Linked DNA regions of Homo sapiens: all the other regions are linked to region 6. Evidence: fine-mapped expression QTL. A gene starts in region 6. Each other region holds a variant in brackets. All regions are shown on one strand. Distances are from middle to middle. Region 1 overlaps PRKD2 (protein kinase D2). Region 2 has its middle 31 kb from the start of IGFL1. Region 3 has its middle 12 kb from the start of SLC1A5. Region 4 overlaps PRKD2 (protein kinase D2). Region 5 overlaps STRN4 (striatin 4). Region 6 holds the start of FKRP (fukutin related protein).

Region 1 (4,084 bases), 44 kb before region 6:
TCTGAGCCAGTCCTGTCCTAGGCACCTGGGAGGGCAGAAAATATCCTTGCCCTCATGCACCTGAGCTCACATTCCAGTGGAGCTGACTAAGTATGAACTCCGTGTATAGTTTAAAAATGTGTAGGCTGGGGGCACAGTGGCACACACCTGTAATCCCAGAACTTTGGGAGGCTGAGGTGGGAGGATTGCTTGAGCGCAGAAGTTCAAGACCACCCTGGGCAACATAGCAAGACCCCCTATCTTAAAAAAAAAAAAAAAAAAAAAAGAAGAGGAATATAGGTCAGGCGCGGTGGCTCATGCCTGTAATCCCAGCACTTTGGGAGGCCGAGGCAGGTGGATTACCTGAGGTTGGGAGTTCAAGACCAGCCTGACCAACATGGCAAAACCCTGTCTCTACTAAAAATACAAAAAAAGTAGCTGGGCCTGGGCGGGTGCCTGTAGTCCCAGCTACTTGGGAGGCTGAGGCAGGAGAATCGCTTGAACCCAGGAGACAGAGGTTGCAATGAACTGAAATTGCATCACTGCACTCCAGCCTGGGCAACAAGAGCGAAACGCCGTCTAAAATTAGCCAGGGATAGCAGTGCATCCCTGTAGTCCCAGATACTCGGGAGGCTGAGGCAGGAGGATCACCTGAGCCCAGGAGTTTGAGGTTACAGTGAGCCACAATCACACCACTGCACTCCAGTGGGCAACAAAGCAAGACCCTTTGGGAGGCTGAGGCGGGTGGATCACTTGAGCTCAGGAGTCAGGAGTTCAAGACCAGCCTGGGCAACATAGGGTAGACCCTGTCTCTACAGAAATACAAAAATTAGCTGGGTGTGGTGGACGAGCCTGTGGTCCCAGCTACTCGAGAGGCTAAGGTGGCAGGATCGCTTGAGCCCAGGTGGTCGAGGCTGCAGTGAGTCAAGACTGCACCACTGCACCAGCCTGGGCGACAGACCGAGACCCTGTCTCAAACAAAAAATTATTTAAAAAAAATTGTAGTGCTTTAAAAGGTTTGCCTCAGGAACTGGGAAAATTTATAAATATGAGGTGATGTCAGCCCATTGTAGAGAAAAAGAAATTGAGGTTCACTGTGCAGGAGGGTCTTCCCCCAGGGTCTCTTGGAGGGTTCTGTGTATACCTCTGGGCCTTGCCTCCCTCGCCTTCCTCCTCCTCACTGGCGTGGAGCGCATTCTCTGAGTGGGAGCCAGGGATGACACCGGAGTCCTCTGACTCATCCATGAGGGCGCTCTTGTCAGCCTCGCTGAAATCGGTGGCCTCCTCCATCGGCACATCTGTGGGGACGGAGGCATCAGAGGGGTCTCCACCCAGTCCTGCCCCTTCCCCTTTCTCCCCAGCATCCCCCCAGCCTCTCACCTCCATTGATAAGGGCCTCCCCCAGGCAGTCATTAGGGACGCGGGTGGCGCAGCGTTTGTGACAGTTAAACTTGCAGTCTGGTAGGACAGGGAACAAGGGAACGGGTGAGAAGGGGAAGAGAGGTTACCTGGAAGGCTTGAACCTTGACCCTAAGCCTCAGGCTCAAAAGAGTCTACTCTTGCTGTCTGGGTAAGAACACTGGCTGCTGCTGCCCTGGTCATTTTCCCACTTTCAGCCACAGTTTTCCCAACCATCGGGGGGGTCTTGATTAAGTAGGAGGGCTAGACTCAAAATCCCGACGACTGCTGGGTGCAGTGGCTCCCGCCTGTAATCTCGGTATTTTGGGAGGCCGGGGAGAGCAGATCATTTGAGGTCAGGAGTTCGAAACCAGCCTGCCCTACATGGTAAAACCTCGTCTCTACTAAAAATACAAAAATTAGCTGGGCGTGGGACTACAGGCGCCCACTACCACGCCCAGCTGATTTTTTTGTGTTTTTAGTAGAGACGGGGTTTCGCCATGTTGGTCAGGCTGGTTTCGCGCTCCTGACCTCAGATGATCCACCTGCCTTGGCCTCCTAAAAGTGCTGGGATTACAGGCGTGAGCCACCGCGCCCGACTTGTGTGTGTGTGTGTGTGTGTGTGTTATTGGTTCTAATGTGCTGTGACTCCAGACTCTGAACACCCTAGGGCTGGGTTCCTCAACCCGTGACACTAACACAGTGCCCAGGATAATTCCTTGTTTTAGGGCACTTGCTCTGTGTATTGTAGGATGTTTAGCTGCATCTCTGACTTCTACCTACTGGATGCCAGTAGCACTATCCCAGCGTACCAAACAAAACCATCTCCAACCCTTGCCAAACATCCCCTAGGAGCAAAACGGCCCCTGGTCGAGAACCATTGCTGTAGAGTTCAGTGTTTCCACGGTTCTAGGGACACTATACATCGAAGATTCTAGAGTTTACTAAAAACCTATTTTATGAAGGTTCTATGATTCTGTTTTTTGTTTTTT[T/G]TTTTTTTTTTTAAGAAACAGTCTGGCTGTCACCCAGACTAGAGTGTGCAATGGCACCATCTCGGCTCACTGCAACCTCTGCCTCCCAGGCTCAAGCGATCTTCCCACCTCAGCCTCCTGAGTAGCTGAAACTACAGGCACGCACTACCATGCCTGGCTAATTTTTCGTATTTTTTGTAGAGATGGGGTCTTTCCATGTTGTACAAGCTGGTCTTGAACTCCTGGGCTCAAGCAATCCACCCACCTAAGCCTCCCAAAGTGCTGGGATTACAGGTGTGAGCTACTGCCCCTGACCTGATTCCGTATTTCTAAGGCTTCAGAGTTTGATGTCCAAGTTTCTAGAACTCTAGACATCTATGAGTCAACACTTCTAAGACTCTTTAATGTCCAAGATTTTAGGGTGTTATATATCTAAACTCTAAAATTTGACAGTTCTAGGGTTCTACAATTCTAGGCTTCTCTACCTCCAGAATCTGCAGATTCCAAGGTTCTAGGATTCTATACATACAAGATTCTAGAATTTGATGTTTCTATGCTTCTTTAGCTCTAGGCTTCTAAGATTCTAGAATTTGATTGTTCCAGTAAATTCTTGAATTGGATGTTTCTAAGTTTATGTGGATCTAGGCTTCTGAGGTTCTAGAATTTTTTTTTTTCTTTTTTTGAGACAAGTTCTTGCTCTGTCACCCAGGCTGGAATGCAGTGGCACAATCATGGCTCACTGCAGCCTCAACCTCCTGGGCTCAAGCAATCCTCCCTCCTCAGAGTCCCAAGTAGCTGGAACCACAGATGCATGCTGCCATGCCTGGCTAATTTTTAATTTTTTTTGTAGAGACAGGGTTTCACCATGTTGCCCAGGCTGGTCTTAAACTCCTAGGCTCAAGTGATCCACCTACCTTGGCCTCCCAAAGTGCTGAGATTACATGCATGAGCCACCACACCTGGCTGGATTCTAGAATTTGATTGTTCAAAGTTCTGGGAGTCTAGAATTTCCAGGATTCTAGGTTACGATGGTTTCAAGCTTATATGATTCTAGACGTCTAAGACTCTCAAATTTGATGTGCCTATGTTTCTATTACCCTCAAATCCCATGGTTCCAAAATTCTCATGCTCTGAGAGTCTATAACTTGGGAGATCTAAGATGTGTAATCTAAAGTTCTGTTGTTATTTTAGCTGAATTCTATCATTCGGAATTCTTGAATGCTATGGTTCTGATTCTAGAATTCTCAGGTTCTACAGTTTTAGAATTCCATGCTAAGCACGTTATGAATCTAGGATTCCAAGGTTCTAAAGACTGAGGTTCAGCTGGGCGCGGTGGCTCACACCTGTAATCCCAGCACTTTGGGAGGCCGAGGTAGGAGGATTGCTTGAGCCCAGGAGTTCAAGACCAGCCTGAACAATATAGTGATACCTTCTCTCTACAAATGATTTAAAAATTAGCTGGGTGTGGCCAGGCGCGGTGGCTCACGCCTGTAATCCCGGCATTTTGGGAGGTCGAGGCAGGTGGATCACAAGGTCAGGAGATCGAGACCATCCTAGCTAACATGGTGAAACCCCGTCTCTACTAAAAATACAAAAAAATTAGCCAGGCATGGTGGCGGGCGCCTGTAGTCCCAGCTACTCAGGAGGCTGAGGCAGGAGAATGTCCTGATCCCAGGAGGCAGAGTTTGCAGTGAGCCGAGATCACACCACTGCACTCCAGCCTGGGCGACAGAGTG
Region 2 (4,084 bases), 480 kb before region 6:
CAGGCTGGAGTGTAATGGTGGGATCTTGGCTCACTGAAACCTCCAACTCCAGGCTGAAGCGATTCTTGGGCCTCAGTCTCCCCAGAGCTGGGATTACAGGCTCACATCATGCCCTGCTAATTTTTGTAGTTTTTGTAGAGATAGGGTTTCACTATGTTGCCCAGGCTGGTTTCAAACTCCTGAGCTCAGCTGATCTGCCTGCCTCAGCCTCCCAAAGTTCTGGTATTACGGGCGTGAGCCACTGCACCTGGCCACTTTTTTTTTTTTTTTTTTTTTTGAGACGGAGTGTCCCTCTGTCGCCCAGGCTGGAATGCAGTGGCGCGATCTCGCACACTACAAGCTCCACCTCCCAGGTTCACACCGTTCTCCTGCCTCAGCCTCCCGAGTAGCTGGGACTACAGGCACCCGCACCACGCCTGGCTAATTTTTTGTATTTTTTAGTAGAGACGGGGTTTCACCGTGTTAGCCAGGATGGTCACGATCTCCTGACCTCGTGATCCGCCCGCCTCGGCCTCCCAAAGTGCTGGGATCACAGGCGTGAGTCACCGTGCCCGGCCACCTGGCCACTTCTTCATTCTTGTTGGCTTTGAGTCACCAGAAAAAAAGTAAATTCTGCATCCTTATGTGGCCTATTGAATCTAAAATTACTTGTTGACTAGTTTCATCCCTTTTCTTCTAATGTATAATGTCACCTTTCTCATATATCAGTTTGCCATTATTAGCTTTATCTGTTGATGGACTCCTGCCAGGCAGGAGTGAGCAGCTCTGCCGCACGGGCTGGAGACCCCGCCCTCGGTGCTCAGCTGCCACTGCCTCGTGACAACGATGCTGAAAGAGCGAGGTTCTGAGAGGGAAATCAAAACAGATGGAGGAAGAGAAACAAGTGGAGGGAAAAGGAGAGGTGGATTGAATAGAGGCAAAAAAAAAAAAAAAAGTAAATAAACCTCTGGGACGGGAAGTATTAAACATTTTGGTCATTGTTCCCAAAGCCAAACAATATTTACAAAAAATTTTCATCTCAATCTGCACTTCTAAATTTTGCTATTTTTCAGGAGGAAGCTTTAGAAAATTACTTTGGAGATGTTAAAGCTAACTGCACAAATATTGTCAAGTAAAACTTGATAGAGTGTAATAGGGAGAGAAGATTTTTTTGTCTCTTATTATTATTATTATTTTGAGACGGAGTCTCGCTCTGTCGCCCAGGCTGGAGTGCATTGGCGAGATCTCGGCTCACTGCAAGCTCCGCCTCCTGGGTTCAGGCCATTCTCCTGCCTCAGCCTCCCGAGTAGCTGGGACTACAGGCGGCTGCAATCAAGCCCGGCTAATTTTTTGTATTTTTAGTAGAGACGGGGTTTCACCGTGTTAGCCAGGACGGTCTCGATCTCCTGACCTCGTGATCCGCCCGCCTCAGCCTTCCAAAGTGCTGGGATTACAGGCGTGAGCTACCGCGCCCGGCCTTTTTTGTCTATTATTAAAATTTGAAACAACGCCATTATAAATGAAGATGACACTACCTAGAGGTGGGAGGGCAGAGACAGACAGACACGGAGAATGGGGACTCCACCCAGTGCAGAACAAGTATGCAGCGCCCCGCTCCCCTGCACCCACAATGCCATGGAGAGGACCGGATCTCACCTACGAGAAAGCCTGTCACCCGAGGTCAGGGCTGAGGAGCACTTCTGGCCTTTCGTCTTCACCATGAGGGACGCCTGGGAGCTGAGGGACCGGGGCAGCACTGCTCGAAGCGACACTGAAGGTGCAGTTTCCACACTTCTGGGTCCTGCCCAAGGGCACGACAGCACTGTCATAGCAACAGTGCCGCAAGGGGTCGTAGAGCTTGTCCCCACTTCCCA[A/C]ATGCCGCTGGCAGAGCATGAGGTAAGCACTTATGGGGCCACTGGAGGAGACAGAGCTGGTGAGGTCAGATGGTTGGTAGATGGGTCCCAGCCGGGGGTCCCCTGGGGGCCACACTCATCCCCCAGTTTCCCAGTCCCTCCTGGGCTCACCTGGGGCTCCGTGTGAGCAGAGGAGCCTGAGGATGCAGAGAGAGGCCAAGACTGCTGTGGGAGAGGGAAGGGGAAGAGGGGGTGATCGGGAAACCACAGGCGATCCTTGGAAGCCCAGCTTGGGGAAGGGGGGCTCCGAGGGAGTTTCTGCCCTGACTGAGACTCAGGGAAGGGCTAGAAGCTGACCTTGCCCTGCCTTCCTGCAGACACACGCTGGGCCCTGGGGTGAGAGAGGTCCCAGACAGGGGATGTGTCGTGGTGGATTTGATGCCAGGTCCTTTGAGAGCCAGGAGAGGACCGATGCTCCCTCCACCCTCAATCTCTCTGTGGTCAAGGGGTGCAGGCAGGACTCTCGGAAGAAATGGGCCTAGGGTTCAGGGCAATGTGGTTGTTTCCTGGTTTTGGAGGAGCTCAGAGCTGGGGCTCAGCTGGGGTCAGGGAGGGAAGGGGCTGCGCTGAGACTGGTGTTGTGCTATGGGTGTGACTGGCACCAACATTTAGAAAAAGATGGGGCTGGGATTGGAACTAGCGCTAGGCAAGACTTTGGGGAGTAGTTTGGGGACTGAAATGGCTGTGGATGGGGCTGGCCCGGGGGCTATGGATGGGGAATTGCTGTGATGGAGCCATGTCTGAGGAGGAGGCCGGGCATGGGGACAGGGATGAGGTGTAGTTTGGGGTGGGGAGTGAGCCTCGGTGGTGGCTGAGATGGGAGATGGGCTCGGGTGGGAATGGGGTCCTGTCCTCCTTACCCAGGACATGGCCTCGGGAGCCATGGCTCCGGGGTGGCTGGAGGGGAGTGAGTGGGTGATCAGCAGGTCTCAGCAGCTCCTTGGCTCCTATACTCCTAGAGGAGCTGGTGATACCGTGGGATGCCCTGCCTTCCTGCAGAGACATGCTGGGCCCTGGATCGAGACAGGTCCCAGACAGGGTATGTGTCATGGTGGATTTGATGCCAGATCCTTTGAGAGCCAGGAGAGGACCGATGCTCCCTCCACCCTCGGTCCCTCTCTCCTCCAGAATGGAGGCTTCTTTGGCAAATAGGAAATTGCAGGACACTCCTGGGGTTGTCCTCACCCTCCCACACTCACACAGCCACAGTCTTACAGCTGACCCTGTGAGTCTAGAGCTGAGACATGCACCGAAGGTTGCTGTATGACCTGGTCCCCTTCTAGACGTGAATCAGTGCGAGGGCCCAGGACAGCAGAAGAGGTGTGAGGCCATCCTGTGACAAGGGAGCCACAGGGTGTCCAGACCCAGCGGGAGCCGAGGATTCAGGAAAATCTCCCCAGTCAGCTCCAGAGGTGCCCACAGTGTGAGCTCTAGTGTCTCCCAGGTAGAGGCCAAAGCGTCACCTGCCCGGCCCTGGGGGTGGAAGTGGAGTAGACGGCACTCCTATCTGGGCAACCGAGTAAGACCCTGTCTCTGAAGAAGTACATACATTTACTTAGACTCCTCTGTCTTTGTCATATATATACATATATGACATATATGAGATATACATATTATATATATGATATATATATGATATACATATATAAAATGTCATATATATGTGTCATATATATATGACATTTTATATATAGGAGCTCAAGACCAGCCTGGGCAACGTGGCAAAACTCCACCTCTACCAAAACATACAAAAATGAACTGGGCACAGTCGCACACACCTGTAGTCCCAACTACTCAGGAGGCTGAGGTAAGAGGATGACTTGAACCCGGGAGGCAGAGTCGAGCTGAGATCGCGCCACTACCTGCCAGCTTGGGTGACAGAGCCAGACTGTGTCTAAAAACAAACAAACACCAGAAGGCAGTGATTTTTGCCCCAAAGTGATTTAACTCTCCCTAGTCATTATACAGAACAAGAAAAATAAGAACATGAATTAGTCTGGGCGCAGTGGCTCACACCTGTAATCCCAACACTTTGGGAGGCCGAGGCGGGTGGATCACTTGAGGTCAGGAGTTCAAGACCAGCCTGGCCAACATGGTGAAACCCCGTCTCCACTAAAAATACAAAAATTAGCCAGGTGTGATCCCAGCTACTCGAGATCTGGGTAGCTACTGAGGCAGGAGAATTGCTTGAA
Region 3 (4,084 bases), 55 kb after region 6:
GGGAGGCTGAGGCAGGAGGATTGCTTGAACCCAGGAGATCAAGGCTGCAATGAGCTATGATTGGGCCACTGCACTCTAGCCTGGGCAGTGTAGTGAGACCCCATGTCTACAAAAACATTAAAAAAATAGATAGGTGTGGTGGCATGCAACTATAATCCTACCTACTCAGGAGGCAGGGGCAGGAGGATCACCTGAGCCCAGGAGATCGAGGCTGCAGTGAGGTACGATTGTGCCACTGAACTTCAGTCTTAACACACACACACACCAGAGTGCATTGTAAAAGTAATTATTATTTTGTGAAATTTTTGCTTAATTTATATACATATTTGCACACATACTGCATTCCAGGTAAAATATACATCTAGCTAGGGTGTGGTAGCTTGCACCCAAGTCCCTGCTAGTGAGAGGCTGAGGTGGGAAGACTCCTTGAGCCTAGGAGTTCAGACCAGCCTGGGCAACACAGCAAGTCCCCATCTCTAAATTAAATTCCTTGAGCTCAGAAATTGGAGGCTGCAGTGATCTCACCACTGCATTCCAGCCTGGGCAACAGAGCGAGACCCCATCTCTAAAAATAAAATAAATATGCTAGGCACGGTGGTTCACACCTGTAATCCCAGCACTTTGGGAGGCCAAAGCTGGCAGATCACTTGAGGTCAAGAGTTCGAGACCAGCCTGGCCAACATGGTGAAACCCCATTTCTACTATGAATACAAAAATTAGCCGAGTGTGGTGGCAGTCCCCTGAAATCCCAGCTACTCGGGAGGCTGAAGCAGGAGAATCACTTGAACCCGCGAGGCGGAGGTTGCAGTGAGCTGAGATCACACCACTGTACTCTAGTCTGGGCGACAGAACGAGACTCTGTCTCAAATAAATAAATAAATAAATAGATAAAATAAATAATCATAAAATAAATACATGAAATGTATACATCCTGTTGTGGATCAGGTGTCTCTAGTTCAAAATTACTTGAGAAACACTGGTGTGCCAAGCCTTCTGTGGTCCATGAGTCTCACCACGTCACTCCTTTCCTCACACATTTTTTTTTTTTTTTGAGAGGGAGTCTTGCTCTGTCGCCCAGGCTGGAGTACAGGGGCGCGATCTCGGCTCACTGCAAGCTCCGCCTGCCAAGTTCAAGCGATTCTCCTGCCTCAGCCTCCTGAATAGCTGGGATTACAGGCGCCCGCCACCATGCCCGGCTAATTTTATTTTTGTACTTTTAGTAGAGATGGGTTTTCACCGTGTTAGTCAGGATGGTCTCGATCTCCCAACCTCGTGATCCACCCGCCTCGGCCTCCCAAAGTGCTGGGATTACAGGCGTGAGCCACCGCGCCCGGCCTCCTCGCACATTTTTCTCTTCATTTCTCCAGAATCTTCACATTTCCACTCAGGAATCTGCTGAGTCCACCAGTCTGGGTCACGTGTCTCCCCAGGCTTCCCCCAGGCCCCTGGACTCCTAATCCCAGCCCTGGCCACCCTGAGTGGTCAAAGTCTGGGGACCACGGTTTGCCACCTCCATTGGACTGAGGGTGGGGGTTGGCTGTCTCCACCTCCACTGTGTCCCAAGCACGGCCCTGCCTGGGGCCAGGCACACAGAAGGGTCTTCAGGAATGTGGGTTGATGCTTTGCTTTCAGAAATAGGAAGGAGGACCGGGAGCACTGGCTCACCTCTGTAATCCCAGCTACTCCAGAGGCTGAGGCTGAAGGATCATTTGAACCCAGGAAGTGGGTTCAAGTGACTCCATCTCAAAAAAAAAAAAAAAAAAAGGCTGGGCTCAGTGGCTCATGCCTTAATCCCAGCACTTTGGGAGGCGGAGGTGGGTGGATCACCTAAGGTCAGGAGTTTGAGACTAGCCTGGCCAAGACGGCGAAACCTCATCTCTACTAAAAATACAAAAAATTAGCCGGATGTGGTGGTGGGCGCCTGTAATCCCAGATACTCAGGAGGCTGAGGCAGGAGAATCACTTGAACCCGGGAGGTGGAGGATGCAGTGAGCCAAGATCACACCATTGCACGCCAGCCTGGGTGACAAGAGCGAAATGTCGTCTCAAAAATAAATAAATAAAATAAAATAAAAATTAAAAAAATTAAAAAGTAAATTAAATTAAAAATAAAAAAGAGAAAGAAACAGGAAGGAAAGGAGGAGATGTCAGGAGCGTTGCACATTCCAGCCTGGGGAACTGGAGAACAGCCCTGCCCTTCTCTTCCTACCTCCCTGATTGTTTATTTAAGAGCTGGCCTGTCTGGGCGGCTCAGCCCTGTCTCCCCCAGCTGCAGGGTGGCAGGCCCCAGTGGCTCCTGGTGCAATTGTAACTCAGGGCCGGGCGTGGTGGCTCACACCTGTAATCCCAGCACTTTGGGAGGCCGAGGTGGGCAGATCACATGAGACCAGGAGTTCCAGACCAGCCTGGGCAACGTGGTGAAACGCCTTCTCTACTAAAAATACAAAAAATTAGCCGAGCGTGGTGGCAGGAGCCTGTAGTCCCAGCTACTCGGGAGGCTGAGGCAGGAGAATGGCGTGAACCTGGGAGG[A/C]GGAGCTTGCAGTGAGGCGAGATGGCTCCACTGCACTCCAGCCTGGGCGACAGAGCGAGATTCCGTCTCAAAAAAAAAAAGGTAACTCAGGTTTCTGAGCCTTGAAGCCCAAAGCTGGGGTGGCAGGCACTGCCCTCCCCACCTCCCCCAAAATCCAGCCAAGGTGGGGACTTGTTTCCCTACCACAGCAAGGTCCCAGCCTGGGAACCTACAGGTATTTCAGGGCTCAGGTGACCTGGATGGAAAGACATTCAATACTTCCTAGGAGGCAGGATAAGACAATGGTTGAGGGGGAAATGGAGGCAGAGAGATGGGCCTCCCCAGCTTCTTCTTTTTTTTTTTTTTTTTTTTTGAGACAGAGTCTCGCTGTGTCACCCAGGCTGGAGTACTGTGGCACAATCTCGGCTCACTGCAACCTCCACCTCCCGGGTTCAAGTGATTCTCCTGCCTCAGCCTCCCGAGTAGCAGGGATTACAGGCCCACGCCAGCATGCCTGGCTAATTTTTATATTTTTAGTGGAGACGGGGTTTCACCACTTTGGTCAGACTGGTCTCAAACTCCTGACCTCAAGTGATCCTCCCACCTCGGCCTCCCAAAGTAGTGAGATTACAGGTACAGGTGTAAGCCACCACGCCTGACACCCCCCTACTTCTTAGATGATCTTGGGTAACGGATTCCATCTCTGAACCTCGGGTCATCTCTGAAATAGGATGAAAGTAATACCTACCCCAGATGTGCCAGCAGCAGTAAAGAAAACCTTAGCATAGGTCTGGGCAATGCCATGAGATCAGTATATTAGGGGCTGGGGGGCCTATGACTGTGATTGTTACTTTTTGCTTTAGAGAGCCCTAGTCAGATGTGAGTCAGGCCATACAATGCAGCCTCTGAAGGGACATAGCCCTATGGGCGTGGAGGGGGAGGTTGTGAAATAGCCTTGCCCTGGGGGTCTGAGGGAACAGGGTCCTACCCTGGCGGGTCTAAGGCCTGCCCTGGGGGTCTGAAGGATCAGATATCTCAAAAGGCCAATCTACAACAGCGGTGTTATTGGGGCAGTAGCCTATCTTCTAACCTCCAGGATAATGGCTGATAATCTTTTATGTCTGCGCCTTAGCAGTACTCAGGGTCCTCTCCTCCCCGCAGCCTGATGACCTCCCATTAACTTTACAAAAGCGGTTGAGTTTTGGGCAAAGCCTATTATTTAAACTGTACCCTAAATGTCTTCCAAAGTTTGGCCCAATAGCCCAGGAATAATGAAGGGAAAGGCAAGATGAAGTATGGGTTAGCTTAGCTTACTGTTATAATTTTTCTTACTGATATAATTTTTGCAAAAGTGGGCCAGGCACGGTGGCTCACACCTGCAATCCCAACACTTGGGAGGTCGAGGCAGGTGGATCGCCTGAGATCAGGAGTTCGAGACCAGCCTGGGCAACATGGTAAAACCCTGTCTGTACTAAAAATACAAAAATTAGCTGGGTGTGGTGGTGCATGCCTGTAATCCCAGCTACTCTCAAGGCTGAGGCAGGAGAATCGCTTGAACCCAGGAGGCGGAGGTTA
Region 4 (4,084 bases), 31 kb before region 6:
TCTGTCATTCATTCATTGAGCCGGTTTCACTGGGCACTGCAGTATGCCGGAGCAGCAGGGAAGGCAGCCATGAAAAAGGCAGCTGCCCCCACCCTCAAGAGGGACCAAGGGCCATAGACTGCTCTAAGGTGCTGAGAGCATGCCCATCTATACTACTGGAATAGTGAGTGGATGAACTGGCTTCTGGCTGTGTCTTAGAAAATCACCTGGGGGCTTTTAAAAATACTGATGTGCAGATTCCATCTCACTTTGCAGAGATTCTGATTTAATTTAGCATTTTCGTGGCAGGAGCCATGGACATCATAACTTTTTTTTTTCTTTTTCTACTTTTTTTCTTTTTTAGAGATAGGGTCTCTCTCTGTTGCCCAGGCTGGAGTGCAGTGACATGATCGTGGCTCACTGCAGCCTCAAACTCCTAAGCTCAAGAAATCCTCCCACCTCAGCCTCCCAAGTAGCTGAGACTACAGACGTGTGCCACCTCGCCCGGTTAACTTTTTTTTTTTTTTTTTTTTTTAAGAGATGGGGTCTCCTTATGTTGCCCAGGCTGGTCTCAAACTCCTGGGCTCCAGCGATCCTCCCACCTCAGCCTCCCAAACTGCTGGGATTACAGGTGTGAGCCACTGCAGCTGGCCCATTTTTTACCTTTATATTTAAGCATAACACAGTCAGTTACAGATCCAACTCCTTCTTCTCCTCTTTTCCCCCTTCTAACTACTGCACTTGACTAGTTTTATAAATAAATAAGTATAACATATGTTCAGGAAAGGCCGCACATCACAAGTGCACAGCTCAATGAATTTTCAAACTGTACAAAGCGTGTCACTAGCATCCTAATCCATAAATGAAAGTTTAGACCAGTCCCTAAAGAGCGCCTTCATGACCCCACTCTGTAACCATCTTCCAGAAGCCCCCAACTCTCCTTATTTTTTTTTTTCAGAGGGAGAGAAAGGGGTAGAGATGGAATCTCACTATGTTGCCCAGGCTGATCTCGAACTCCTGGGCTCAAGCGATCCCCCCAGCTCCAGCTCAGCCTCCCAAAGTGCTGGGATCACAGGCGTGAGCCACTACACCCGGCCTCTCCTGACTTCTAACTCCCCCTACCCTCTCCTCCCCCAGATGCCCCGCCCCCACCCGAGGCCCCGCCCCCAGGCCGGCCACCACCTCTCACCCGACAGCACCACCTCCACCAGGTCGCCCTCCTGGATGTCTCCGGACGAGCGCACCAGCTGCAGGAGGTTGGCCGACGTGGGGTCATGTTTGAAAAGCAGGATCTTGTCGTAAAGGCCGTAGAAGCCACACTCAGGGAACTGAGGGGCGGGAGAGGGATGTGGCGACGGAAAAGCTCAGAGCCGCCTTCAGCAGCGGGCGGACTGTGACCCTCCCAGGGCAGGGCCGGCTGTTTCCCCCGGAAACGCAGAGACCCCGCAGGCCCTCGCTTCCTGCCTGCCCCCTCCCAACCCCAGCGCGAGCCGGGCAGGATGCCAGCGCCCCAATTGTACGGGGAGGGGGCGCCGGCGTGGGTTTGGTGGCTGGAAGGGGGAGCTGGGGTGGGAGGGAGAGTGGCTCCGGGAGCGTGGACACCTCGAATTTTCCGGAACCTGGCGGAGGTGGGAGGGGATGCTGAATGAACACTCCCTCCCCTGTGCCTCCTCCCCAGGCTCACACACCCGCCCCCCAGCTTCCTTCCTGGATCTGTCTATTGTTGTCCCAGTTACCTGGCTCCAGGCCCAGCACTGGGGTGGGGCGAGCTGGAAGGAGGACTTTTCGGGGCTCCTGGGAAAGTGGGGGGGGGGGCCGGGGGACTTGGACTCGAGGGCGCTGGAGATAAGGAGGGCGCCTGCCACCCAATGCTCAAAGGACCCAGGTGTCTGGGTCCTCAGCTTTGGGGGCCTGGGGGCAGGAAATGAAACCTAGTAGAACAGAAAGTGAAACTGCCCCGGTGGGGCCTCGGGAAGGAAGGTAAGCGGCCCTAACACACCTGGACCTGGCAGAAAAATAAAACTGGGGTGAAGCCTGAGCGGGGCAGGCTGGGGACTTGAGCACTGGACAAAGAAGTTCACCCAAGGGACAATCTGCCCCCGTACCCCCACTGCCACCAGCTTCCCATGAAGTGGGCTGAGTTGGGGTGGTGAGCTGGGCCTGCGGGATT[G/T]AGGCATTTGGTGGGCAAAACCCTATCAGTTCTCACTGCTAAGAGAGAGTCCACAGAAGACCAGGACTGCCTTGGCCCTGACCCCTTGGGAAGTTTTTCTCTAAGCTTCAGTTTCCTTGTCTGTAGAATGGGGGAGCTGGCCCAGTTCCCCACGTTTCTCTGATGCCCAAAGGATTCATTTCCAGGAGTCTGAAAAGATTCTGGAATTTGGATATTTTGGGACTCCAACATGCTCACATTATAGAATTATACATTCTAGATTCCTACCTGGTATCACTATACATTTTAGGATTTCAATAACCTAAATAAGCGGTAATCTAATATTTTAATATTCTAGGAGTCTGACAAGCTAGGACTGTGCTCTTTGAATTCTTTAGCATTCAAGGACCTCATCCATCCAGCATTCTAAAATTCTAACATTTTAACTTTCTAGGATTCAACAATCTAGGAATCTAATATTCCAGCATTTTAATGTTTTACTATTTCACAAACCTAGAATTCTAATATTTGAACACGAACATGGGGGCAATTTAATTGCCTAGGATGCATATTCCAACAAGTTATGATTCTAATATTCTAACATTTCTACAGTCCAGTACTCCAACACAGAAGCCCACTATTCTTTTAACATTTCACGGTTTAGACGTGGAGTTCCACCTGGTTTCCTCTTGCCATAACACCCAGCTGCCCACCCTGGGGACCCTGGTGTCCAAAATTAAGAGTAGGCTAACAGCACTGTGACTAGGAAAGGGAATAGAGTCCCCAGGGTCTGTAGGAGTGCCTGCCCCTCCACACATATCTCAGGCTTAGGGGAGGGCAGAATTGGGCTCCGAGACCTCACTTGCCCCTGGCAGCTAACTCAAGCACCTGCACCCACACATGTCACCGGATCACCATGGCCAGCCCGGGTTCAATTTCTCCTGTTTCCACCAAATGGGAGGCCCGGGATGGGCCTGGACGTGGAGGTCCGCCGACATCTGCTGCCCCTTCCTCCCCTCTCTACACCTGGCTGGCCCCTCCCTTCCTCCCTGTTTGCTGCAGAAAACAACGACATGCAGGGACATGAAATTTGGGGAGGCCTCTGGGGCACCCCACCCCTGCCCAGTCCTCTCTCAAAGGGATGGTGGGGAGAGGGGCAATGGAGGGGGGCAATGCCCCCTATCCCTCCATCACCCAAAGCTCAGGTCTCCTTCCTCCCTCTTCCGCACACCAGGCCCCAGACCCCTCTGCCAGCGCCCCCTCCTTCAACCTCTCCCCGAGCTGGATCCAGGGAGCCTGCGCCCTCACCTTCTGGTCCACGATGGAACAGGCCAGCTGCTTCACATGAGCCAGCTCGGAGGCGGCGGGCAACAGCACGAACTCGCGGGTCAGCCCGATCTGGATGTGAAAGGAGACCCCGGAACCCGGGGCCGGGATCTGGGGCAGTAGCGGTGGCGGCGACTGCAGCTCTAGGCCGCCGGGGGGCGGAGGAGACCCCGGCCCGGGAGAGCCAGGGAGCCCGGCGGGATAAGAGGGGGCGGTGGCCATGGGGGGAGGCCGGGGACCGGCCGCCTGGAGCCCACCCGGGACCCGGCCGGGGGGCCCCGGGGGACCCTGGGTTCTAGATCCGCGGGATCTCGTGAGCAGGTGGTGGGAGAGCGGGGATCCGAGAAAAGATCTGGCAGGCGGAGGGGACCTGAGGATGGCGGGGTCCTGGGAAGGAGAGAAAGGCACTATAGTGGGTCAGAGGCCCGGAATCCAGGGCTCCCAGAAGATCAGAAAGGAGAAAAGTAGTGGGTTGGAGGTCCCAGCGATTGAGATTCCAAGAAGCCTGAGAGGAAATCTAGTAGGTCGGGGTCACAGGGATCAGGAGAGCCCGCGATTCAAAGGCCCCTTCCCTAGAGGAGGGATTGAGAAGGGGGCAGAGGGAATCCCAGGATCCAGTGCTCCAAGAAG
Region 5 (4,084 bases), 23 kb before region 6:
CAGGACGCCCCTGACTGGACTGCGGGGCTCAGCACACCTGGCAGTACTAGGCATGGGCGTGCAGAGACTCAGAATGCGGGGTTTCTGCCCTCACCTCAGCCCCACCTGCCCGGCCCTACACCCCAGCCAGCGTGGCGGCCAGGGCAGGGCCAGGTGGGCATCATACGAAGACCTTGGCCAGGGCATCAGCGCCAGCACTGGCAATGAGGGCCTTGCTGGGGTGGCAGGCAACAGCGTGGATGGCCTCCTCGTGCTTCTTGCGGTGGGCCGTGATCTCCTGCACGCACGTTTTGTTGTCCAGGCTCCAGAGACGCAGGGAGCAGTCATGGCCTGCACATGTGTCGGGGACAGAAGGGGTGGTCACTGGGCTCCTCGCTCAGACGCAGCCCTGGAACCCCTCACCTGGCCTTGTCCAAAGGCCTCAGGGGAAGTGGGGCTCAACTCTCCTCTCTCACCCTCTGCTCATCACCTCCTGTGGCCCGCCCAAAGGAGAACCCTGGTCCCCTCCTGTCCACAGTCCATCTCATCCCCCAGCATTTCTTGAGCAGCTACTGCACACTGAGCCCCAGGGCGGCAGGGGCAGTGAACAAAACAGGCAACTCTCCCTGCCCCGCAGCACTGACGCTGCAGCTGGGCAACAGGAAGAGAAAGAAGAAAGCAACCCAGCCGGTCAGTGTGAGGACAGAATGGCCCCAGGAGGAATGCAGGGAGCCTTCCAGGCAGAAGGACAGGCGGGAAAGGTCCTGAGGCAGGAGGTGGGGGTGGCCACAAGAGCCTTAGCAGGGACTTGGGGAGAAGAGGGGAGAGGACGGCAGGCTGGGCAGGGCCCTGGCGAGGAGAAGTTTAATTTAGGGTCAAGAGGATCAGGCAGGGCAAAGGCTCAGCTCCCTCCACTGTCTAGTGGCCCCCAGAATAGAGCCCTGTCTGGGCACTGGGCTGGAGCTCACTGACCAGCCCCTCACCCACCAGAGGCTGCCAGCACAGGCCCGGAGGCAGAGCCCAGCCACAGCCTCCAACACCACGGCCTGCGCCTCTGTGCACACACACTCACTGCTGCACTCACTGCAGGCCTCACCCTTCACCCCCACAGCGACCTCCAGTCTCCTTCTCCACCCACCCACGTCACACTCCATCCCTTCTAAGCACAGCCACGTTGCTGGCCTCAATGCCCTTATCCAGAGACAACAGGGTGGGAGCACAGAAGTCCCACGGGTACCCCCAGGTAGACCTGGACTGATGTTACAGAGCTTCAATGGCCAAGTTACAAAGCGTCTGGGCATCAGGGCCCACATCTGTAAACTGGGGATCAAAGTACCAACCGCACAGGCTGCTTAGAGGCCGAATGAGACGATGCAGCTCCAGTGACCCAGAGGAGGGCCCCAGCGGACTGTGCTGCCCCCTATGGTCACCACGGTCATTCCCGCCCAGACCAGCCTCCCCCAGCCCTGGCCCCCGGGGCCCCCTGAGCACTTGCCTGGAGCCAGTGCCCAGGCCTCTTCCTCCCCTTCTCCCCAACCCTGGTGGGACTAGTGTGCTCAACTTACTTCCTGACATCAGGAATGCGCCGTTGGGGTCCACGGCTAGGCAGGTGACTGCGTCCAGGTGTGCAACCATGGAGTGCACCGGCTTACCTGAGGCGAGAAGGGCGGGTGGCAGGTTCCCCTCCCACTCTGGGCCTCGCCTGAGAGAGTGAAAGGACTGGACGAGAGACTCCCAGAGCCTCCCACAGGGACGCAAGCATCTCTGCTGCCTGCCTCTGGCCCTCCCCACCCACTACGAGCACAAGGGGCTAGGCCTCACCTGTCCGATTGTCCAGGAAGCGGATGCCCCTGTCGTCGTGGGCGGTGATGGTGAGAGGCTGGTTTGGATGACTCACCACTTGGTTGATCTGGGTTGGACCTGAAGGAAAACGCAGGAAGAGGGAAGGATGTCAAGCAGAAAATCAGGAAGACCAGAACAGAGGCACAAGCGCAGCGTGACAGCCCCTACACCAGCCTCTGCCTGGATGTCGAGGGGGGCTGGGCGAGGGCACTCCGGTCCCCGACCGCAGCGCTGGTTCTGCACAAGCAGCCCCTGGGCCCTGTTTTGGGG[C/CT]GGGGGAAGAGGAATAACAAACATGAACACATTCCGCCACTCTACCAAGAGGGCCCGACGGGGCGGCCCTGACGCGCTCTCCCCACTCAGCCCCGCCAGTGCCCTGGCTGTGAGGGCCGGGGGCCCTCCACTGGGACCCAACTTCCTTCCTGCTCAGGGCCTGAGGGTGCAGGGGAGTCATCTGAGCTGACTGACAAGGGGTCGCCAAAGCCCCAGGAGGAAGTGGGGCCCAGAAGACACTGAGACCAATTCCATGAGCTGATGTCAGCCCCCTTACCGCTGCTGCCCCGGGACTCCAGCGTGAGGAGGGCACTGCCAACCTCCATGTCATACAAGACGGTGTCGCCAGAGCGGAAGGAGGCCACGATGTGGGCAGGCTCGGTGCTGGTGAAGGCCACTGAGGTGGGGACCCCGTGCTCTGAGGGCACAGGGAAGAGAAGGCTGCTGAATGGACCCTCAGACCCAGCCCTGCCCCAGGGTGGGGGACAGTGGGTGGGAGGCCTGGGGCCTCAGCAGGAACCACTCTGATAGCCTCCAGATCCCGCACAGCTCCAGGGTGAGGCACCGGGGCCCCCACTCACCGCTGGCTGTGGGGAAGGTGCAGAGGCAGGCCGGGCTGCTGCTGCTGGGGTCCCAGATGCGGACGGTGCCATCAGCAGAACAGGAGGCCAGGCGCTGGGAGGTGGGACTGAAGGCCAGGCCCCACACGGCGTCCCCGTGGCCCTCCAGGACGTGGCTCAGCACGCTTGGGTCTGCACCCACCGCAGGGAGGAAATGGGCTGTGTCAGGGCTGCCAGCTCCTCCCTGGACAGCCCAGAGCCCCAGCTCTGCCAAGCCCCAGGCAGCTGGGCTCCAATCACCCACGCACCCACTTCACACCTGGTGCCCCTCGGAACTGTCCACTGCCAGGACAGCCCGGCAGCTGCTCACACTGCCCACTAGCTCTCCAAGGAAGGTTCTAGGGCTCCAGAAGGCAGGGATTTCCCTCTATTCACAGCTGTCTCCCCAAGCAGGGCCCAGAAACTGGGAGCTCAATACAGAATTTTTCGGGCTCCATTAAGGAAGAAGGAACAGCATGGTTCTGTGGCCCCAGGAGCGGCACGCAGCCTGTGCTGGACAAGGGTTGGTCCCAACCCTGGCCCGAGCAGTCTTTTCAGCCCATGGCCAAGTGCATGGGCTTTGCCTGGTCTCTCCAAAGCCCCCTGGTCATTCAGAGGTCCAATCACTGCTTCCCTGGTTGCTGGAGTCCACACCAGCAGCTCTGGCCTGCTGACACCGAAAGTGTGGTGGCTAATGTAGCTGGGACCGATCCTGACCTTGTGCAGGTGAGCCTGTTCTCTAAAGTCTGTCCTCCCCTTGAGAGGAGACAAAGACCTCTGAACTCTGCCCAGACAAGGTGGAGCACAGGGCCAGGTGCATGATCAAGGAGGCAGAGCCGGGCGCAGTGGCTCATGCCTGCAATCCCAGCACTTTGGGAGGCCAAGGTGGGTGGATCACCTGAGGTCCGGAGTTCAAGACCAGCCTGGTCAACGTGGTGCAACCCTGTCTCTACCAAAAATACAAAAAATAGCTGGATATGGTGGTGCGTGCCTGTAATCCCAGCTACTCGGGAGGCTGAGGCACGAGAATCACTTGAACCCAGGAGGTAGAGGTTGCAGTAAGCCAAGATCACGCCACTGCATTCCAGCCTGGGTGACAGAGTGAGACTCTTTGTCTCAAAAAAAAAAAAAAAAAAAAAAAAAAGGCAGAGAACAGGGGGACAGATGTTGAACAGAAGTGACAGTCTGGTCACTTCCCTACTTAGGTCTTAGATGCTCCAAAGAGAAAGCCCCAACGCGCTCCAGCCTGGCCCAGCTAACTCCACCTTCTCTGCTTTCTCTGGACATGCCCTCCCCTCAACCACGCAGAGACCCTGGCGGATCCCCACACACAGAGTACACGGCATGGCAGAGCAGAGGCTGCCAGGGCCAGCCACGCCTGTGCATGGGCTGCT
Region 6 (4,068 bases):
GTCGGGCATGGTGGCTTATGCCTGTAATCCCAGCACTTTGGGAGGCCGAGGCAGGTGGATCTCTTGAGGCCAGGAGTTCGAAACCAGCCTGACCAACGTGGCAAAACCCCATCTCTACTAAAAATACAAAAATCAGCCAGGCGTGGTGGTGGTGCACACCTGTAATCCCAGCTACTTGCGAGGCTGAGGCAGGAGAATCGCTTGAACCTGGGAGGCAGTGGTTGCAATGAGCCAAGATCATGCCACTGCACTCCACCCTGGGTGACAGAGTGAGACTCTGTCTCAAAAAAATAAAAATAAAAATAAATAAATAAATAAATAAATAAACAAAAGGTCCACCACAGACCAGCCCTTCTGCTCATCTGCTGGGATCCTAGATAAATCACCCTCTCAAAACCTCCATTTCCTCTCCTGATTTTTTTTAAAGGTAGGGGGAATATCCTTTATCCTCCCAGAATGCTGCAAGAATTAAATGACAGCTCGTATCTACAGTACTTGATACAGCGCCCCAGACATGGTATGTGCTCACTAAATTGCAGCTGGTACCGTTATTGCTGAGTGAGGTAATGACACTGCCTCTGCCTACATCACAGGGCATTGTGAAGATCTGATGAGATGTATGCTGGGAAAGAGCTTCGGAAGTAGAGAGTGGGACAGAAGTGAGAGCAGTTACATAAGGATTCTGCTCCCATCCCAGCCCCAAGCCTCAGCCACCACAAGTGAGGGCAGGGGGAGAGTTACTGGAGGGTCTTTACTCATCCTATGAACAAAATGCTTTTTTTTGAGACAGGATCTCACTCTTTTGCCCAGGCTGGAGTGCAGTGGTGCAATCATGGCTCACCGCAGCCTCAACCTCCGGGGTTTAAGCAATCCTCCCACCTCAGCCTCCTGAGTAGCTGGGACTACAGGCGCATGTCACCACACCCGGCTAATTTTTGTACTTTTTTGTAGAGATGAGGTCTTGCTATGTTGGCCAGGCTGGCCTCGAACTCCTGGGCTCAAGGGATTCTCCCACCTCAACCTCCCCAAGTGTTGGGATTACAGGCGTGAGCCACCGCACCCCATCCCTACCGACACAATTCTCATCAGCTATTTATTTGGGTACCAGCTTCCTACTAGATAGCAAACGGCAAATCGGAAGGGGAAAGGTGGGCTGCTACAAGCAGGTAATGACAATTTCTGCTAATAATAACCCAGTCCAAGAATCTTCAGACTTCCAGCGGGCCATTCCTGATCCCTTCAAATCCGGACATCTCCATGGTCCTCCAGTCACTGCCAATGGACCTGACGCTCCACGAGGTCACAAACCCTAGCCCAACTCCTCAGACTCTTCCATTCAACATCCCTGTCCCAAGCTACCCCAAAAACCACGGGGTCTTTTCCCAAGACTTCCACAAACATATCCCCTTCCCCCCAACCCCAGTCTACCCCCGTTCCGAGATGCCTCCTCATGTTGCCTTCGGGCTCTACAAAATTCTCCCCCCTAAAGCATCACCCCAGGGTAACCCCTAACTCGTCCTCATTGGCACCATCCCAGGACCCTCACCTCCATACTGGACATGCCCAACACCCCACACTCCAGTTCAGGGCTCTCTACCTACATCCTACAACACACGTGCCATCTCAGTGCCATCGCGCCCACTCCTGCACACCCCCAAAGTGGAACTTCCACTCTTAAGCTCTCCCATCCAGGCTCCTAGGGTACATTCCCTGCTCTGTCCACACTTCCACTCCAAAGAACCCTTCCCTGCACTGTGCAGCCACACATGCCCGGGATCCCCAAAGTTTCTCCTCAGAGGGGAAGGCACACACCTTCATCCTGGACCCCTTGAAACCCTCCTCCCACCCCTCGGGTCCTTACACAGCCCTCCTTCCGTGCCCACCGTCCAGTCGCCCCGAAACACACCGATCCCAGGTTCCCGACTTCCTCTCCCTAAATCCTCCCGGTTCCCCATCTGGACCCGCTCTTTCCCAGCGGGTCCCAAGTTCCCCCCTTGGACGCTCCCACCTCCAACCTGCACCTGGCTAGGGCCATGGTCGGGGTCGGGGTCGGGAGTCCCTCGGCGCCCGGCAAGCTTCTGCTTACTCCCACAGGAGACCACTCAGGTCTCCCAGACCCCTCCAGCTCCTCTCCACACCCTTTCCCGAGTTCTCTTAGCCTCCCCTCCAGGGCTCGAGTCGCCTCTCTCAGGAGCCCCGCGGCCAGCGTGCTCAGTCCCAGTCCCAGTCCCACTCCCAGCTGGTTGTGGTCCCTCCGCCCCTTTCTCTCGGCCGGTCCCGGTGATCCCTCCCACCCCCGGTCCCTCCACTCCCACCTCGGGCCGTCCCGGTCCCGTCCCACCCCGGAGTGCCCTCAGGACACCCCTCGGACGGCCCCTCACTCGCCCTCCGGGACCGTCGCGGTCCCCTCCCGCCCCCCCGCCGGCCGTCCCGGCGGCCATTGCTCCAAGATGGCGGCGGCGGCGGCAGCGGGTGAGGCCGGGCCGGGCCGGGCCGGGTTGGGGGTCGGGGGTCCCGGGACAGCGCTCACCTGTAACTCGGCGCGCTCGGCCTCCCAGCGGGCTTTCTCGGCTTCGAAGCGCGCCCACTCGTGCTGGATAAAGTGCAGGATCCCCGGCAGGCTCAGGGGCTCCGGGCCCGCCGTGGGCCCGGGGCTGCCTCCGCCGCCGCCTCCCTTACCTGCCGGGCCCGGCCCGGGGGCAGGGGCGGAGACCGGGGCCGCCCCAGTGGGGCCAGGGCCCGCGCCTGAGCCGAGCGGACGGCAGGAGGAGGCGGCGGCGGCGACCGCGGCGGCCGCTCGCTCCTCCATCATGGAGGCCCCGGGGCCGGCCTGCGCGCCCGCTGTGCCTCGCGCGCCTGCGCGGCCGCGCCAACACCCCCCCCCCTCCCCCGCCGCAACCACCGCGCGCGCGCCCGGCGGGGGACAGTAGGAAGGGGGGCCGGCGGCGAGCGCGAGCCTCGCCCACCCGGGTCTACACCGAAGGGTAGCGTGCCCGCGCGGGGGCCGGCGGGTGGGAGATCGCGCCCCGAGGAGGGCGAGGGAGACCCAGGCCCCGCGCGACGGTCCCCCTCGCTGGAGTGAGACTGAGGAAGGGGCCGCTTTCTGCCCCCCTCCTCCCACTTCGCCCCAGAGAAAGAGCCTTACCCCTTCCACACCCAAACACCACTCTCCTGGACAATTACTTTTACTCTGAGAGAAAGGGCGACCAGCAGTGGCCCCATCCTCTCTGATTGCCGGCCAGGTTGGTTGTCATGGTAACCCTTCCCCAGCGGTGGGGGCGAGGTGGTGGGGAGCAGCCTTCCCCTCGCTTCCACCTTTGTGGTTATGGAGCCCCAAACCTCTTAGGACTCTGCACCAGGAGAAGGTTGCTAAGGTAACCTAAGTGTCCGTGGTGGTCCTTCTGCTCCTATCCTCATTGATTACTATGGCAACCTCCCCCCCACCTAGCATTCAGGTAGAAAGGACCCCAGCCCCAAGGACACTGATCTCTAAGAGAAGCACCTCTTCCCCAGCCCCTCCCCCATAGCCACCTAGTTGGCATTACCATGGTAACCGTCTTCCCCTTCCCATCGTGGGAGGCCCATGCACCAAACTAACCAGGTGTTTTTATTTAGAGGAGATGCTCTGCTGAGGGGCAGTTGCTATGGTTACAGGGCCTGGACCTTCCTCCGGAAGGTGAGAAACAGGCAAGTTCAAGGCCTGGTTACTATGATAATAGAGCAGCCCCCTTCGAGTGACCCTAGGAACCAAGCCCAACAAAGGAGGGGATTTTTTTTTTTTTTTTTTTTTTTGAGACAGAGTGTAACTCTTGTTGCCCAGGCTGGGATGCAATGGCCCAATCTCGGCTCACCACAACCTCCGCCTCCCCGGTTCAAGCCGTTCTCCTGCCTCACCCTCCCAAGTAGCTGGGATTACAGGCATGCGCCACCACGCCCGGCTAATTTTTTTTTTATTTTTAGTAAAGACGGGGTTTCTCCATGTTGGTCACGCTGGTCTTGAACTCCCGACCTCAGGTGATCTGCCTCAGGCCCGCCTCGGCCTCCCAAAGTGCTGGGATTACAGGTGTG

What was found. PIP is the estimated chance that this variant, and not a neighbour inherited with it, causes the effect.
Region 1: its variant is fine-mapped to the expression of FKRP in whole blood (TOPMed, PIP 0.99).
Region 2: its variant is fine-mapped to the expression of FKRP in sigmoid colon (GTEx, PIP 0.95).
Region 3: its variant is fine-mapped to the expression of FKRP in whole blood (TOPMed, PIP 0.98).
Region 4: its variant is fine-mapped to the expression of FKRP in whole blood (INTERVAL, PIP above 0.99). The same link has a PIP of 0.9 or more in sigmoid colon, subcutaneous fat, tibial nerve and visceral fat.
Region 5: its variant is fine-mapped to the expression of FKRP in kidney cortex (GTEx, PIP 0.95).

What each region holds. Positions count from the first base shown.
Region 1 is chr19:46,699,676-46,703,759 of GRCh38, forward strand. It overlaps PRKD2 (protein kinase D2), which reads right to left. Exons shown (of 18, transcript NM_016457.5): 6 at 1,360-1,437; 7 at 1,124-1,277. Among named protein-coding and RNA genes, the nearest start is that of MIR320E, 7.6 kb to the right of the region's middle. The variant T/G (reference allele first, on the strand shown) is at 2,370.
Region 2 is chr19:46,258,798-46,262,881 of GRCh38, forward strand. It overlaps the pseudogene IGFL1P2. Among named protein-coding and RNA genes, the nearest start is that of IGFL1, 31 kb to the left of the region's middle. RefSeq lists enhancers at 1,845-2,344, 3,681-4,084. The variant A/C (reference allele first, on the strand shown) is at 1,854.
Region 3 is chr19:46,798,879-46,802,962 of GRCh38, forward strand. No RefSeq gene overlaps it. Among named protein-coding and RNA genes, the nearest start is that of SLC1A5, 12 kb to the left of the region's middle. The variant A/C (reference allele first, on the strand shown) is at 2,531.
Region 4 is chr19:46,712,695-46,716,778 of GRCh38, forward strand. PRKD2 (protein kinase D2) reads right to left here. Exons shown (of 18, transcript NM_016457.5): 1 at 3,437-4,084; 2 at 1,169-1,307. The coding sequence starts at 3,676. It overlaps LOC107987269, which reads right to left. Exons shown (of 4, transcript XM_017027568.2): 4 at 3,840-4,084. Among named protein-coding and RNA genes, the nearest start is that of PRKD2, 2.4 kb to the right of the region's middle. RefSeq lists a silencer at 1,435-1,664 and an enhancer at 1,855-2,154. The variant G/T (reference allele first, on the strand shown) is at 2,150.
Region 5 is chr19:46,720,442-46,724,525 of GRCh38, forward strand. STRN4 (striatin 4) reads right to left here. Exons shown (of 18, transcript NM_013403.3): 13 at 2,673-2,843; 14 at 2,369-2,509; 15 at 1,801-1,899; 16 at 1,545-1,631; 17 at 95-330. The coding sequence ends at 161. Among named protein-coding and RNA genes, the nearest start is that of PRKD2, 5.4 kb to the left of the region's middle. The variant C/CT (reference allele first, on the strand shown) is at 2,092.
Region 6 is chr19:46,743,619-46,747,686 of GRCh38, forward strand. FKRP (fukutin related protein) reads left to right here and starts at 2,439. Exons shown (of 4, transcript NM_024301.5): 1 at 2,439-2,472. STRN4 (striatin 4) reads right to left here and starts at 2,832. Exons shown (of 18, transcript NM_013403.3): 1 at 2,531-2,832. The coding sequence starts at 2,812. RefSeq lists silencers at 2,378-2,607, 2,818-2,867, 2,878-3,027, 3,068-3,167, 3,208-3,257.